Regions from separate parts of the Homo sapiens genome. Here region 1 is linked to region 2. The links come from fine-mapping of genetic effects on gene expression. Tissue or cell type: nucleus accumbens. Region 2 holds a variant in brackets; the other region holds the start of a gene. All regions are shown on one strand. Distances are between the middles of the regions.

The links. PIP is the estimated chance that this variant, and not a neighbour inherited with it, causes the effect.
Region 1: ARNT2 starts here. The variant in region 2 is fine-mapped to the expression of ARNT2 in nucleus accumbens (GTEx, PIP 0.99).

Annotation. Positions count from the first base shown.
Region 1 is chr15:80,402,758-80,405,437 of GRCh38, forward strand. It overlaps ARNT2 (aryl hydrocarbon receptor nuclear translocator 2), which reads left to right and starts at 1,625. Exons shown (of 19, transcript NM_014862.4): 1 at 1,625-1,789. The coding sequence starts at 1,759. It overlaps ARNT2-DT (ARNT2 divergent transcript), which reads right to left and starts at 1,439. Exons shown (of 6, transcript NR_184070.1): 1 at 1,234-1,439; 2 at 745-828. RefSeq lists an enhancer at 1,056-1,556.
Region 2 is chr15:80,592,766-80,595,445 of GRCh38, forward strand. It overlaps ARNT2 (aryl hydrocarbon receptor nuclear translocator 2), which reads left to right. Exons shown (of 19, transcript NM_014862.4): 19 at 835-2,680. The coding sequence ends at 933. Among named protein-coding and RNA genes, the nearest start is that of ARNT2-AS1, 9.5 kb to the left of the region's middle. The variant T/C (reference allele first, on the strand shown) is at 1,085.

The DNA of each region.
Region 1 (2,680 bases), 190 kb before region 2:
GAGTGTGTTGCTTTTCGGGGTATGTAGAAGAGAGGCTGAATTCTCATTTGGCTTGATGTTGGAATCAGGAACAGTCAACTTTGATACGGGGCACAAGAGCGGGCCATAGCTGATACCCTGGTTTCTCTGTCTGGGCCTGGCCTATCTTGTGGCTGGGTGCACACCTGCTTTATTTTTTACTTGAAATGTCTTCTTTTTCCACCTGTCCTACTCATGTCTTCAAAGCCTAATTTTCATTTTCCCTGATCACTCCACCTCCTCTCTGCCCTCATTCATTCATTAGTGACTACAGGCTGGAGATGCCAATTTCAGGGCTTCTGCCCTAAGCCCCCAAGGGAGCTGTGTGCTTCTTGAGTGCAGATACTTTGTTTCACTCTTCCCCACTCTACCCCCCAAACCAGAAGAACAGAGCTCCTGTTTCTTCCTTTCCATGGTAGGCCCAACACCTGGCTTTGTGCCTGGCACACAGCAGACATTCAACATTTGTAGAACTGATAGACTATTAGATTAGTAGTGACAAATACTCCCCGAAGAAAATGCTTATTTGAACATACATCCCAAATTTTCTGCCCTCCAGAAAATGCTTCCTTGGAAGGATTTAAGACAGTTTGATGTCTCTGCAAACATTATCTGCGTTTAGGGACCAACTTGCCCTTCTCAGCGTTCACCTGGGATGTCTTTATTCTTCCATTTAACCTTTACAGGGGACCCCGATGGTGACGTGTCCTTCCTAGGGGCCATTACCTCTCTCAGGGATCCTAGTGTCTGGTAGAAAACAACAGCTCCAAGTTCTCTGCATCCAAACTTCGCCAGGATACGCAGATAAACCTATTTAAAAAAAAAAATCTTTTTAAATTCTCAACTTGGTGGTGTAAATAAGGCCCTTGCAGCGCCCTCAAGTAATAATCAACGGCAGTCATTATGGAAGGAGGGTAGAGATGAGCGCCTTACTCAAAGCCAAGACATTCACAATTTCTCGGGCCGGCTGCCTGTGCCTGGGCGTGTGCACTGTGCACTCCGAAGCTGTGTGCGGCGGTGGCCTTGGAGGTGCGCGTGGCCTTAGGAATTCCCGCGGTCGGGCACCCTCCGCTTAACACCGGGCCGTGTCCCCGGCCTGGGAGCCGAGCAGCGCGGCTCTGGCATGCTAAGTGGGCAGCACTGGGGCGCCTTTGTTCCTCGCGGCCGTCTCCCAGGACCGGCTTCCCTCTGAATCTAAATGGGCTTCTCCCTCACCCGCTCCGCCCTGGCCTCCTGGCCTGGGCACGGCGCCCCTGGGTAAAGCGCGCCCGGACACCTGGGGCGTGGGCGTGCGGGGGCAGCCCGGGCTAGGCGAGCGCGGGAGAGGCGCCTGCGGTCCCAGCCCGGCCAGGCCCGAGCACCTGCGCGAGCCCGAGGGAGCGCCCGGCCCTCTGCCCCCGCCAGTCGCCGGCGCCCAACTTGGGGGTCCCGCCGTCCGCAGCCCCAAGTCTCGCGGTGCTACCGCTCTGACCGGGGAGCCGCGGGCCGGGCGCCCCCCGCCGCGCGACAAAGGCTGAACCGGGAGGAGGAGGCCGAGGAGGGGGAGGAGGAGGAGAGAAAGGCGGGGACGGCGAGCGGCCGCGGCGGCGGGGAGAGCGGAGGGAGCGCCGCCCGCCCGCGCCGTCCTTTGTGTGGCGGCGGCGGCGCCTGGGCCTGACCGGGTCCCCGGGGCTGAGCGCCGGGCTCCGCGCCGCCCCTCCCGCGCCCCTGCCAAGCGGGCGCCTATCCTCTCCGAGCAAGATGGCAACCCCGGCGGCGGTCAACCCTCCGGGTGAGTAGCGGCCTGGGCCCCGCCGCCCGCCGCAGCCCGCAGGCCTTGCCCGGGGCCGGAGCGGACCAGGCGCGCCGGGCGCCCCCGGGGGCGCGGAGCCGCAGCTCGGCGCGGTGGGTGGTGGAGCGGCTGTCACTACGCGGCAGCCGCAGCATCAGCACCAGAGCGGCATCTGCATCCCAATCGCTGCCCATCCGGTCCCGGGCAGGCGCCGGTCCGGACCCGCGGGCGGCCGGACGCTGGCCTCGCATCCTCGGGAACCCGAAGGGCAGGCCCGGGAGCCCCCGAAGTTCTGAAAATAACCGCCTTTGCCTTCCCCATCCCACGCATTTTTCTCTTCCGGTCCCGGCTTTTGTGGCATCACGGCGTCAGCCAGTCCTGGCTGGTGGAGGGCTCCGCGCTGACGGAGGGAAAAGTTTGGAGCTGGGATTCAACAGGGTACAACTCCCGGGACTCTCCCCTGCCCGCCCCGCCCACTAAGCGCTGGTCCTTTGCGCCCTTTGCGACTGGCTGCTGTGTGTCCTAACCCTCCGGGGGCACAAAACACCCAGCCTGTGGTCACCAGCGTGGAGCAGCCCTGGTCCTGCCCAGGTGACATCCTCTGCTTTCTGGTCTGACCTGTCCCCAGGGTGCAGTCTGTGACAACTGAGCTCATTAGGAAATATTTCAAAAATGGAAGAGTTCTTGATCAAGTGGCAACATTGACTTGTTTTGGTATTGTAGTAGGGAAGTTCCGTTTTCACTGGGAAAGTTCCCTACCTGATGAGCAGGGTGTGGGAGAAGAGAAACGTGAACATCTAAGCTAGTACAAACTTTTGGGTGTTGTGCAGAGGCTGCTGTGGGCACGGCAGGTTGCTGGGTCCCTGTGGAAGATGCAGGGAGAGTCACAGA
Region 2 (2,680 bases):
CCCACAGCAACCCTGTAAGGCAGAATTTCCTGACATGGATCTTCATGGTCACGATGCTAAAAAGAATTCTTGGCCAAATAAGCTTACGAAAAACTGGTTAAACAAAGTTATTGAGTTTCTTTATTGCAGGACGTATCAGAGCTTTTATTACACCAATAAGGACTGGATTTCTAGGAGGTAGGCAAAGTGTGCCTTGTTTCCCAAACTTATTTGTCCACAGAATTCTTTTCTCACAGAGTATCACATGGGCTGAGAATTCAACAGAACACATGTTGGGGAATTGGCTGTAAGAAACTAAAATAGTGCTATTCCCGTTTTCTGGATGGGTCATCTGAGGCCCAGAGGACTGGAAAGACATGTTGAAACTGAAATCTAACCATTCAGGGATTCGTCCCTGCGCTAAGATAAACATGGAAGACAGGCCAGCCAGGTCTCCACATACATCTTCCTTCCACTCCACTCTGCGTTGCATTTCTCTTATATTTTGGCCATCTGCTATCTGTTAGGTGCACCTTGCTTGGGGCCAGCCTGGGGTCTCCCCGCCAGTGGGGTTCTCGTCTACCCTGGGTCCCTGACTCAACCTTAGATAGACAAAGGGCATGTCCTAATGCCGTTTACCTGCTGTCACAACAGCTCCCTGGGGAGAACAGTTTCCCCGGGTCTCAGACATTTGAGGACCCTTGCAGAGCATCCCGCAGAAGGCTGGGGAGGACCTCTGGGCTGCCCCTTTAGGGATGGCCATGAGGGTGAGTGCAGACTGGGCTCCTGGGACATGCCCAGTGCACGGACAGAGGAGCTGACTCCCCTGTGGCTCTCTTTTCCTCTCCTCTGCAGGACATGCTGCCCATGCCAGGAGATCCAACCCAGGGGACTGGCAACTATAACATCGAAGACTTTGCCGACCTGGGCATGTTTCCACCGTTTTCTGAGTAGCTGCGGCCAGAGTGAGGCTCCTGCTGTACAGTGCCACCCATACTGTGATGTCGATGCCCATGTGAATGAGGCCCACCCTCGCCCTGCTTGCCCTGCCGCAGGCCCCCCACCAGAAGCCATCTCCCCCGCTGTGTGTCCCCAGGCGCATCAT[T/C]GCTCCACTCTCCCCTGCAGCCGCGGCTGCTCGGCCACTGACCAGGGGCCCTGGCAGACATTAGGGGATCAGTTGTATTTATTGTATTTTATCTGTGTGTGCTCAGGAGGTGAGCCTAGTGGGTCCTTAAGTTTGGTTGTGAATAATCTCTTGATAGACAATTTATACCCATGAAAGTTCAGCCAATGCCCAGAGTGACCAAGCAGCACCAGCAGGCCTGCCCAGGATGCTGAAAGCAGATTTCTTCTTGATTTCACTTCTGATGGATGCATGGGGCTCTGGGGGAATGCTGGGAAAATGGGCAAGCAGAGTGCACAGCCCTCGTTCTGCCAGCTGGAGCCAAGAAGCACAGAGACACAGAGGCGCCTGCCCCTCAGCTCCGCTGGTCTGTCTGTGCATCCACTGTGCCGTGGGACATATGTAATTTGTGCAGTGTGACATGGACTTGCTGTCCTAATGGATGTGTTGTGCCTTGTGTCTGTCATGTGTGGCCAGCGTGATTGTATAGAATCCAGAGTATGTAGAGAGCCAAAATGTGTGGCCCTGTCCCCAAGCTCAGCACCACCGGCCATGACCAGAGGTTGCTCGGCCCAGGGTCTGGGAGCTGGGCTAACAGGCTGACACTTCGGCAGGGTCACCAGGAGGCACAGCTAGGGGCATGCTCACATGGGTAGGTCAGTTCTTTGGTCCAAGCCTCTGGTGCAGATTCAAGCTCCTCCTCTTAGAGGAAGCAGCTCCTTCCTCCCACAGGAGCCCCAAGGGAGCACTCACCCTCCTCCCAATTGGATCTGAATAGCTGTGTTCCTGATCCCACATAAGCATGTCTCATCCTTGCCCCACTGGTGAGAGGAGGACCTTGTGCCTGCCCAGAGCCTGCAGGACAGCACGCCTTGAGGTCAGAGGCCTGGCCCTTCTTTACAGATGTAGATAGCAGGGTAGGACGCCCAGGCCTTCTCACATGGGCACCATGAAACACTTTCTTCCAGGCCACCTGAGCCTTCGTTCTTCAGCCCGACTGGAGGAACAGCAGCTCTGGGAGGCACAGAGTGCAGGTCTCAGGGGCAGAAGACATGGGTTCCAGTTCTGGTTCTGCCACACACCCACCGGCCTTGAATTTCTCTGGTGGTCTCAAGACAAGAACAAGAGCTGACTCTAGAATCTTCTGCCTGGCTGACCTCTGAGCCCATGATCCCTGGCTTGCTGTGCTTCTCTTGGATTTGAGGAGAGTTTATGAATCCATCCCCCTGTTTTCAGGGACCTCTGCCTTCTCCCACACCCCTTACACTAGTGAGGACTCCTTCGGCCTCTTGTGTTTCCTTCCTTTTGTGACCATTACGCCCCCTCCCTGTTTCTTATCACCAGCCCATCAGCCCACTGACTCCCATATGGTAGAAAAGGTACCGTGGCTGCTGCAGGGCACATGGAGGGACCTACCCTCTGGGAAAGCCCTTGTGTCCCTCCCAGAGTCCTTCAGGTAGGCCCTCGCAGATGCTGCTTGCTCAGAAACAACCCGTGCATCCCTGCCCATGGATTCTGCAGGACCTAGAAGAGTGGCATTGGTTCTAGGAACCTGAGAGTGGAGTGAGGCCAGCATGC